Homo sapiens: one gene and its partners. The protein of the gene in region 3 purifies or fractionates together with the protein of the main gene of each other region. This does not show direct contact. Each region holds a gene or a part of one and is shown on either strand. Other genes may lie near its edges.

Region 1 (4,102 bases), on a different chromosome or scaffold from region 3:
TTCCTTTCTTTCTCTTTCTTCTTTCTCTCTTTCTTTCTTTCTTCCTTTCTCTTTCTCTCTTTCTTTCTTTTTCTTTCTCTTTCTTTCTTTCTTTTTCTTTCTTTCTTTCTCTCTCTCTTTCTTTTTTTTTTGAGATGGAGCCTCTCTCTGTGGCCCAGGCTGGAGTGCAGTGGCGTGATCTCGTCTCATTGCGACCTCTGCCTCCTGGGTTCAAGTGATTCTCCTATCTCAGGTTCCCGGGTAGCTGGGGTTACAGGCGCGCACCACCACGACTGGCTAATTTTTGTATTTTTAGTAGAGACAGGGTTTTGCCATGTTGGCCAGGCTGGTCTTGAACTCTTGACCTCAGGTGATCCGCCCACCTCGGCCTCCAAAAGTGTTGAGATTACAGGCATGAGCCACTGCACCCTGCCAACGGCATTAGATTTTCTTTTTCTTTTTTTTTTTTTTTTGAGACGGAGTCTGGCTCTGTCGCCGAGGCTGTAGTGCAATGGTGTGATCTTGGCTCACTGCAACCTCCGCCTCCCGGGTTCAAGCGATTCTCCTGCCTCAGCCTCCCGAGTAGCTAGGATGACAGGCATGTGCCACCACACCCAGCTCATTTTTGTATTTTTAGGAGAGACGGGGTCTCACCACGTTGGCCAGGATCGTTTCTATCTCTTGACTTCGTGATCTGCCCGCCTCGGCCTCCCAAAGTGCTAGGATTACAGGTGTGAGCCACCGCACCCGGCCGGGCATTAGATTGTCATAAGCAGCATGCAACCTGGATCCCTCGTGTGTGCAGTTCACAACAGGGTTTGCGATCCTGTGATAATCTAATGGCGCCCCCGAGAATCTGAGAGGAGGTGGAGCTCGGGCTTGCTTGCCTGCCACTCATCTCCTGCTCTGTGACCCGATAGGGCTCATGGTTTCTAACAGACAGACCATGGCCCGATAGCAGTCCATGACCCCGGGGGTTGGGGACCCTGTTGTAAAGGACTTCAGAAATACTGTTTCATTGAATCCTTCAGCGATCTTCCTGGCATTCACCACTCCTCCAGGAAGATTTCAGCATCCCCAGACAGAGGTGGGTGTCATTTTTTTCTCTTCTATCATCCTCTGCGATACGGGTGGCCCCTCCCAGACCTTGTCTGCCAAGCCGACTGTTGACTAAGCATTTTCAGAGGGCTTCCTTGGGGAGGGGTTGCCTTTCTTTCAAGTAGCAAATCACTTCCTGTGTTCTTTTGATCAAAGCCCTGCCCATCCCAGGACCTGAGCCTCCCTGGCTTGCTTCTCATCTTGGAAGAATTCCCACCCCAACAGTCTCAGAGCTCCAGCTGATGGTTTGGGTGTGAATTCCGGGATGCCCAATTTCTCATCAGCTTTCCTTTTTTGAGACGGAGTGTGCTCTGTCACCCAGGCTGGAGTGCAGCGGCAGGATCTCAGCTCACTGCACCCTCCGCCTCCTGGGTTCAAGTTATTCTCTTGCCTCAGCCTCATATGTAGCTGGGATTACAGGCGTGTGCCACCACGCCCAGTTAATTTTTTGTATTTTTTAGTAGAGACGAGGTTTCACCACGTTGGCCAGGCTGGTCTCGAACACCTGACCTCAAGTGATCTACCTGTCTCAGCCTCCTAAAATGCTGGGATTACAGGCATGAGCCACTGTCCCTGGCCCTCACTGGCTTCCTGAAAGAAGGTGTTGTCTCTCAGACTAACACCACCTCTGCCTCTTGCCCTATGTCCCTGACTCCACCCTAGTAAGCTGTACCTGCCAAGAATCCTGCAGTGGCCGCTGTCACAGCCACATGCTCTCATCCTCACTGACTGAATGACGAGAAATGAAAGCTGAAGTGGTCTACACAGCAGAGAGCTGTGGGGTGGGGTCAGCCCTGGCCACCTCTTACTTTGCGTCTTATGGTGGTACGATACTGCTAGGAATAGCGCCATGATCACGACAGTCTCCCCGTTGCTATCATCGACAGACCTCAGACTTGACAGGCAGCAACACCTCTGGCTGCCATCCTCCTCTTGGGATAAGGGATGCCCACCAAAGGGTGGCATGGACGTATTCAGCCTCTCCTGCCTCTGCTGCAGCCATACCGCCCGTCACCGGCACAGGGAGGGCGTCAATCCACCCCATCGCTTGTTAGACATAGCTTCCCATCTCAGCCGAGGACTCTGTGGCAGAACCCACAGACCTTGAGAATGTTGCAACTGAAAGACCCCTGAAGAGCAACTTCCGCATCTAGACGGATTTCCAAATATGACATCTGTGGGAACCGGGGCCAAGAGAGGGGAAGTGACTAGCCCAAGGCTACACAGGGAGACGAGAGACTGGGCTGGACTGGGAAAGGGCTCCCTTAATTTGCAAGCAAAGGAGGCTATGTCCTTGTCCCTGCAGACTCTGTGATTCTCCCTGGGCCACCTTCTGTCTTCCAGGTCCTGCCCTATCCTTGGATCCAGGGATACCACCCTGGCATCCCCACCACCTACAGATGGGAGCTTGCTCCCTGGTAAGGGATGCTGGAGGCACCTGAGCTGCACTGAGAGACACCCCACCCCCACAGAAGTCCACCATGCCCCTCCCCTCACCCCAATTTCTGATGGTCATTTTTAGGACACCTCCACCTGGCTGGTGTCCCTCCTCTTTCTTCTTCCAGATCCCACCCTTGAAGGACTTACCATGGTGGGGGGCTGGTGTCTGGGCTCCTGGAGGCTCCTGAATGGGTCGTGATGGAGGTGCAGGTTCAGGGGGATCTTGGGGGTGGCTTGGGCATGGCCCTGCTTCTGCCCGTTCACCGGACTCCCGGCTTTAGTTCCTCTTACAACAGCCCCTTCTCACTTCCTTTGGCGGGAGGGGCCGAGGCCATGGGGGAGGGAAGCTGGGTGTGGAGGGGGGCGGGGAGCTGGCTGTTTGGGGCTCTGAGCCTGAAGGGAGGGGTCAGAACTTGATGGCAGCCACTACTGGACCTCAGAGGCCTCTTCCCCAACTCCTTGGGGACAGGGCTGCTGCAGGAACATTTGGGTCAGCTGGCTGCAGGACGAACCACCTCTTTTCAGGGCGATTCAGGAAGCATTTGGGCTTCCCGGGTCTCTTTTTAAAACCAAGGAAGGGGCCCAGGGGAGGTGGCTCACGCCTGTAATCCCAATACTTTGGGGGGCCAAGGTTGGAGGATCGCTTGAGTCCAGGAGTTTGAGACCAGCCTGGGCTATATAGCATGACCCCATCTCTACAAAAAATGAAAAGAAAAAAAATTAGCTGGGCATGGTGGCATGAGCCTGCAGTCCCAGCTACTCAGAGGGCTGAGGTGGGAGGATTGCTTGAACCTGGGAGGTGGAGGCCTCAGTGAGCCCTGATTGCGCCACTGCACTCCAGCCTGGGCGAAAGAGTGAGACCCTGTCTCTAAAAACAAACCAGAAAAAACAAAAAAACCAAAAAAACAACAACAACAGGGAAGGGTGCCTTCTTCAGCTGTGTCTGCTCTGGGCATCCCTGGGCAACCTCCTTCATTATTATTATTGTTATTATTTTGAGACGGAGTCTAGCTCTGTCACCCAGGCTAGAATGCAGTGGTGCAATCTCAGCTTACTTTAATCTCCGCCTCCTGGGTTCAAGCGATTCTCCTGCCTCAGCCTCCTGAGTAGCTGGGATTACAGGTGCCCACCGCCACACCTGGCTAATATTTGTATTTTTAGTAGAGACGGAATTTCGCCATGTTGGCCAGGCCGGCCTTGAACTCCTGACCTCAGGTGATCCTCCCAACTCGGCCTCCCAAAGTGCTGGGATTACAGGCATAAGCCACCACGCCTGGCCCAACCTCCCTCTTTAGATGACCCTCAGAAGTCACACGTGTTTGTGTGCAGAAGTGGAGGGTACTGGGAAGCAGGTGCATCTGAAAGGTCCCTGACTTTGGATGTCACATCTAGATTTAACAGCCTCCAGTTTGGCTACTTCCTGGATGACTTAGTTACTCCCTTTTCTCATTGTAAAATGGGAACGTGGGTCCCCCCAGCAGAGCCTGGCCCAGGTACGTGTCAGCCTATGAGCTGGTCTTTGGGACACCAGCCAACCACCTGAGGCTCCTCTTGACATGTGAGGAAATGGCAGTTCTAATAGGTT
Region 2 (3,500 bases), on a different chromosome or scaffold from region 3:
AGTGCTGTACTGTACCCGTTCTGTCACTTAGATGGTATGGCAAGGCCATCCCCAGGCCTCTTTGTTCTTAAGACTTTTCTCTTCCCTTGGGGACTTCATTGTCCTTAAGACCTTTCCCCTCCCCTGCACTGCACTTCCCCCTGTAGGGTAGAGGTTAATTGGTCACCTGACTGAAGTCAATATTCAACAGCAGAAATGTTAAACGATAACCCATCCCACATTCTTGCCTTGGACCCAGAGGCAGCCAGGCCCCAATCTCTGCACCTCTACTTGCGCCCCCATACAGCCTGTTTGCTGTGGGAGGATGAGAAGCCAGGTGGTTTTGCAGGCAGACAGACTCTGAGAGTCCGTTTATCTTATACAGGATCTCTTGACTTTTTCTTCTTGTAACCTTATTAACCTTCATTCCAGAGATGAAAAAGACAGACCCAGTAGGGGAATAATCAGGGTGAACACGTATATGAAATTCTTTCAAAAACCTAAAAAGCATTTAAGAAAAGAAAAATAGTTTTGTGGGTTGCCACCTCTATTTTTTTGTTTATAAAATGGGAAGGGTCTGGATTGCCCTGTGACTTAGGGTGTGAGGAGGCTTTCTCAGTTCAGAACTTGTTGAGAGATAGGAAGAGTAGTCAGACAGGTGGAGATTACTAATAAAAGCTAGGTTGGGGCTGCGTGTGGGGGCTCACACCTGTAATCCCAGCACTTTGGAAGGCCAAGGTGGGAGGATCACTTGGGCCCAGGAGTTTGAGACCAGCCTGGGCAACAAAGTGAGACCCCCATCTCTACAAAAATACAAAAAAAAAAAAAGAAGGAAAGAAAAGCCAGGTATGTTGGCACCAGCCTGTAGTCTCAGCTACTGAGAAGGTTGAGCTGGAAGGATTGCTTGAACCCTGGGAAGTCAAGGCTGCAGTGAGCTGTGATCATGCCAGTACACTCCAGCCTGGGTGACAGAGCGAGGCCTTGTCAAAAAAAAAAAAAAAAAGCCAGGTTGGGTAACTTGATGAAGATATGTAGGCATTGGACTGAGCCCTGAATTCGAGAGACTCTGACCTTGGTAAGATCAATGGTAGGAGCAGCAGGGAATTTGTGCTTTCTGGAGGCAGGTAGATCCTGAAATAGGAGAAAGAAAAGGGCTGAACCACACACAAATCTGATCATGTGAGACACTTCTCTGCCTTGGGAGGAGTGTTTGGATAGAGAGAAGCCAGATATGTTTCTCTAATGGAGGTCCCTCTGCAGGGAAACATAAAGCCAGGGGAAGGGGGTTTCTTTCCAGCCCTTGGCTTAGGGCGAGAGTACATCAGAGAACTCTGGACAGTGGCGTGGTCAGTTCATGGAGCAGGAGTGAGAGAACACAGCCTGCACTCAAGGCTTTCTCTTGGGGAAGGAGTGGGAATACTGGGTCTGTGCCCATTGATGTCCCCCTTTTCTTTGATCTTTAGCACCCCCAATGGGAACAGCCTCAGTGCCGCAGAACTCACTTGTGGAATGATCATGTGCCTGGCCAGGTAAGTCCCTGACTTCTCAGCAAAGCTAGTCTCTCCGATATGCCAATTATTACCACTTGCCAAGCAAATGGACCCAGAAAAACTTAGAAACATTTCGTCTCAGCGACTTGCAGACTGCTAAGAAGGCGACATGCAGACTGCAAAGAACCTTTAAGGCCATCAGGTCCTCTATTCAACATTCATTACACAGGTTCCCTAGTGCACAAAGGTGCACTTCTCTTTACTCATGTTCTATTCTCCATGCTGCAGACAATCTGCCTTCTCTAGCCTCCAACTCTTGCAAATGTTCTCCATACCCTGCTGCCTGGAGATAACAAGGAAGGATGTTCCAGGCAGCAGGGTATGGACAGTGTCTAGGTACCCTCTGCTTACTTTTCAAGATTAAGCTTCAGTATTAATTTATCCAAGAAGCTCTCTGGCTTTTCCAGCTAGGCTATGTCCCTCACTGATTCCCCTGGCCCTCAGGGCTTATCTCTGTCACTGCCCTTACAAATCTGTATTGTAATAGAATGGAGTAAGAACCTGCTTCAGGGTCCTTGTGTGTTCTGTGGGTTCATAACACAATGGAACTCAAATGGGCAAGACTCTTGCTCTTCTAGCAGGAGTTCCAGGCCTCTTGAGTGGATGGGGCAGCCTAGAAATCAAATGGTTGTGGCACAGAATGTGCTTGAGTCTCAGTGTGTTGGTTAGTAATTTGGCAAAACTGATTGCATGGAGCACTTCTGTTGAACAGGCAATTCAAGCATTTATGTGGTCAAGGGGAAGAACAAGGCTCCCAATAAACAGGGTAGGAAGTTGTTCTAGGTCCCTTTGAAGCTCCATGGATTCCCTAAACCAGCGGACCTAGGCATCAAGGACTCCTTGTTTCTCTACTCAGGCCTGAAACCTTCCGGGACCAAGAAATTACTTTTCCCATGGCGAGACCTGCTTTCCCTCCTGCTGGAGGAGGATCTGGGGGAATTTACCTCTGCTCTAACTCCTCCCTGCAGTTTCCATCTGAGCTCTCTGGTATTCACTGATATTCACTGGTAGGTGAAAGGAGGCAGTGGGGGGAAAGGAGAAACAGGGATAGCTTACACAGCAGTAGGGTCTCAGCCTAGAAGGGGCCCCCAGGCTGGCAGCCGGGTTCTCCCAGAACATCTAGGCTGAGTGTCTCTCCCCCTGGAGAAGTACAGAAGCCTGGCACCCTGGTTTCACTTCAGCTATTACCTTCAGGGATTTTTTTTTTTTTTTTTGAGTAAGGGAAAAGATCTCAATGTGGCTTTCTGATTAATTACCTCACTTTTTTTCTGGAGGTGGAAGGAAAGGATTGGGAGCCAGCAATACTTTCCCTCCTTTTCCAGGACCAGCTTTGTTTAAAGGAATCGGTGAAATGCTGTGGTTTAAAAGAAGCTCCCCATTGTCAACTGCTCACCATGACCTCACTCATCAAAGGTGCATCAAAACTAGGAAACACGCACACCCTATTGGGAAGGAATGCGTTCGTTTCATCAGACTGTTCCTAGCAGGGAGGACGGTAGGAGAGTGTGGGTGCCTATATGTAGACTCTACAGGATTGGGCAATGTGGGTGGAGAGCAGGCGTGGCTGGGCCTCACAGTAGGGACTTTGAGCAGATGGCGGGGGCTCCTGAGGTGCAGAAGAACAGCACACAGAAAGGAAGGAAGGAGAGAATCAACAAATGTAGGTTTCACCATTTTTGCCTGCTTTACCATCTCCTCCTCTAGTAAGTCAGGCCAGCAACCATTTAATTATTGTGAGGACCCTCGCCCACATTAGAGTCCTCTCCAGTCTGGCCTGATGAGGATTCCAAAGCATTGAAACCTGGAGAGGCTCCATGATCAGCTGGGAGCAGCAGCCAGAGAAAAGGGTTAGGGATTTCTTGTGTTCTGTGGTGCCGCACGCATACATCTTAGATAGCACTGTGGAGTCTGGTGGGAAGAAAATAGGATGTGAGGGAGAGGAGAGAGGGGCCAGGTGGGGCTCTGTCTCAC
Region 3 (3,056 bases):
CCTTAAGTGTTTGTTGATTTGGTGGAAAGATGGACTAGCAGAGAGTGCTTGAGTCCTCAGTGTTTAGGGAACAGCCAGCAGCATTGCAGGAAGAAGCTGCTTGAGTGGTCTCCAGAGCCAACCACTCAGGAAGGAATATATCTGCTGGCTCTGCACAGGAGGCAAGTGGGAGATGAAGGAGAGGCCTCTAAAAAACTGGGTCTCTCTCTAGATCTTTGGGCCAGAAGTGGGACAGGCATCCTTCTTCAACCTAACTGTGAAGGAGATGGTAAAGGATGTACTCAAAGGGCAGAACTGGCTCATCTATACATATGGAGTCACTAACTCAGGGAAAACCCACACGATTCAAGGTGAGTAGTAAGCCTTCACGGGATTCCTGATTGGCTGGTAATGGTGTTGTTTTTACCTTTTGAGACTCTGAGTTAGGGGGAGAAGGGCACTTGCCTCAGCTGTCCATCTTTCATATGCCTCCAGGTACCATCAAGGATGGAGGGATTCTCCCCCGGTCCCTGGCGCTGATCTTCAATAGCCTCCAAGGCCAACTTCATCCAACACCTGATCTGAAGCCCTTGCTCTCCAATGAGGTAATCTGGCTAGACAGCAAGCAGATCCGACAGGAGGAAATGAAGAAGCTGTCCCTGCTAAATGGAGGCCTCCAAGAGGTAAAGCATTGGTATCCATGGCAGTGGGGGTAGGGGGTACAAATCTCGGGGAAGTTTTGTGCTTACCTTCTCCCTGTGCCCCTCCAGGAGGAGCTGTCCACTTCCTTGAAGAGGAGTGTCTACATCGAAAGTCGGATAGGTACCAGCACCAGCTTCGACAGTGGCATTGCTGGGCTCTCTTCTATCAGTCAGTGTACCAGCAGTAGCCAGCTGGATGGTATGTACCGTGACTGGGCTCTGCCAAAAAATAGTAGGAACTCACTCCCTGTTCCTAATAGCTGCCAGGAGTACAGACCAGAGGTTGCAATCTAAGGTCTGCCTTCCAAGGCCCCTGCAGGCCAAAAGAGAGGTGAACTGCTCTAGGTTGATGCCCTATACATTGGCTTCTTCTCCAGAAACAAGTCATCGATGGGCACAGCCAGACACTGCCCCACTACCTGTCCCGGCAAACATTCGCTTCTCCATCTGGATCTCATTCTTTGAGATCTACAACGAACTGCTTTATGACCTATTAGAACCGCCTAGCCAACAGCGCAAGAGGCAGACTTTGCGGCTATGCGAGGATCAAAATGGCAATCCCTATGTGAAAGGTAAAGGAACATGGGGAAAGCTGGCATGAACCCTGGAGGGCAACTGGGGAGAGACTGGCAAAAGAGTTGGATGTTCCCATCTTACACCCCTCTCCTTTGGCCCCAGATCTCAACTGGATTCATGTGCAAGATGCTGAGGAGGCCTGGAAGCTCCTAAAAGTGGGTCGTAAGAACCAGAGCTTTGCCAGCACCCACCTCAACCAGAACTCCAGCCGCAGGTGAGTAGATTGTAAGAATAAACTCTTCACTGTGTTCCAGGAAACATTAGTCCTCTGCCTGGTCATGGAAAATGTGCAATGACTTTTTGTTTTTCTTAACTTCCAGTCACAGCATCTTCTCAATCAGGATCCTACACCTTCAGGGGGAAGGAGATATAGTCCCCAAGATCAGCGAGTAAGTTTATCCATTTAGAAATTTGGGCTTCTTGGCCATAAATGATAGTTGGGAAAGCATGGAGGAGGTCCTCAGGGGAACTATGTGTTCTCCTTCTTTGGGTACAGAGATTCTTAGTGGGCCGTCCCCTCTCCAGAATTATACAAAGGGCCAGAAGGCTCATAACATGTGAGGCCCTTATGTCAGATCCTGTGCATCATTCTAGGCTGTCACTCTGTGATCTGGCTGGCTCAGAGCGCTGCAAAGATCAGAAGAGTGGTGAACGGTTGAAGGAAGCAGGAAACATTAACACCTCTCTACACACCCTGGGCCGCTGTATTGCTGCCCTTCGTCAAAACCAGCAGAACCGGTGAGCTTTTGACTATAATTCCTGGGCTCTGCAATTTGCTAAGAGACTTCCTGGACACCACTGGGGATGGTGCTAGGATACCCAAAGGGCTGGTGTTCTGCTCACAGCTCTATTATCTCTGATTCTCTGCCAGGTCAAAGCAGAACCTGGTTCCCTTCCGTGACAGCAAGTTGACTCGAGTGTTCCAAGGTTTCTTCACAGGCCGAGGCCGTTCCTGCATGATTGTCAATGTGAATCCCTGTGCATCTACCTATGATGAAACTCTTCATGTGGCCAAGTTCTCAGCCATTGCTAGCCAGGTGAGAAGCTAGAGGTGTGATGGGTGTGCGCACTTGGAACTGGTAACTCTAAGAAAGCTCCTAGGGACTACTTATGGAGTCAAGTAAGATATTTTTTTTCCCTCTAGCTTGTGCATGCCCCACCTATGCAACTGGGATTCCCATCCCTGCACTCGTTCATCAAGGAACATAGTCTTCAGGTATCCCCCAGCTTAGAGAAAGGGGCTAAGGCAGACACAGGCCTTGATGATGATATTGAAAATGAAGCTGACATCTCCATGTATGGCAAAGAGGTGAGAATACAAGAAAGCTTTAGTGTAGCAGCTTAGTAGCTACACATTTTTCCATGGTGCCTTCCAGGTGGGCTTGTGCCTTCTGAGGGCATGAGCATCTGATGACCTCTGACATGTGTGTCTCTCCTAGGAGCTCCTACAAGTTGTGGAAGCCATGAAGACACTGCTTTTGAAGGAACGACAGGAAAAGCTACAGCTGGAGATGCATCTCCGAGATGAAATTTGCAATGAGATGGTAGAACAGATGCAACAGCGGGAACAGTGGTGCAGGTACTAGCTGAGTGACCCCTCTTGCTCTGTCACCTGAGACAGAGGGTGGGAAGTAAGGAGTTAGGTGGAGTTGTGCCTCAAGATCTGTTCCCCAAGTTCACTCCTCAGAACCTTCACTTACCTCTCTTTTCTCCTCTGTTTCTGACAGTGAACATTTGGACACCCAAAAGGAACTATTGGAGGAAATGTATGAAGAAAAACTAAATATCCTCAAGGAGTCA

The links.
Region 1: the proteins of KIF20A (region 3) and MYO1F purify together in Homo sapiens (affinity purification with mass spectrometry; 2 studies listed by BioGRID and IntAct, with this or other methods). This does not show direct contact.
Region 2: the proteins of KIF20A (region 3) and PHGDH purify together in Homo sapiens (affinity purification with mass spectrometry; 2 studies listed by BioGRID and IntAct, with this or other methods). This does not show direct contact.

The regions. Positions count from the first base shown.
Region 1 is NC_000019.10:8,574,643-8,578,744, forward strand, and holds the start of MYO1F (unconventional myosin-If), read right to left. Parts: upstream 2,801-4,102; 5' UTR 2,668-2,800; coding exon 2,665-2,667; intron 1-2,664. UniProt on the Homo sapiens protein: Myosins are actin-based motor molecules with ATPase activity. Unconventional myosins serve in intracellular movements. Their highly divergent tails are presumed to bind to membranous compartments, which would be moved relative to actin filaments.
Region 2 is NC_000001.11:119,721,934-119,725,433, forward strand, and holds part of PHGDH (D-3-phosphoglycerate dehydrogenase), read left to right. Parts: intron 1-1,442; coding exon 1,443-1,508; intron 1,509-2,385; coding exon of another isoform or gene 2,386-2,516; exon of another isoform or gene 2,517-2,536; intron 2,537-2,851; coding exon of another isoform or gene 2,852-2,942; intron 2,943-3,500. UniProt on the Homo sapiens protein: Catalyzes the reversible oxidation of 3-phospho-D-glycerate to 3-phosphonooxypyruvate, the first step of the phosphorylated L-serine biosynthesis pathway.
Region 3 is NC_000005.10:138,182,112-138,185,167, forward strand, and holds part of KIF20A (kinesin-like protein KIF20A), read left to right. Parts: intron 1-211; coding exon 212-350; intron 351-474; coding exon 475-662; intron 663-749; coding exon 750-879; intron 880-1,057; coding exon 1,058-1,252; intron 1,253-1,358; coding exon 1,359-1,470; intron 1,471-1,576; coding exon 1,577-1,645; intron 1,646-1,850; coding exon 1,851-1,994; intron 1,995-2,127; coding exon 2,128-2,293; intron 2,294-2,400; coding exon 2,401-2,565; intron 2,566-2,695; coding exon 2,696-2,835; intron 2,836-2,983; coding exon 2,984-3,056. UniProt on the Homo sapiens protein: Mitotic kinesin required for chromosome passenger complex (CPC)-mediated cytokinesis. Following phosphorylation by PLK1, involved in recruitment of PLK1 to the central spindle. Interacts with guanosine triphosphate (GTP)-bound forms of RAB6A and RAB6B.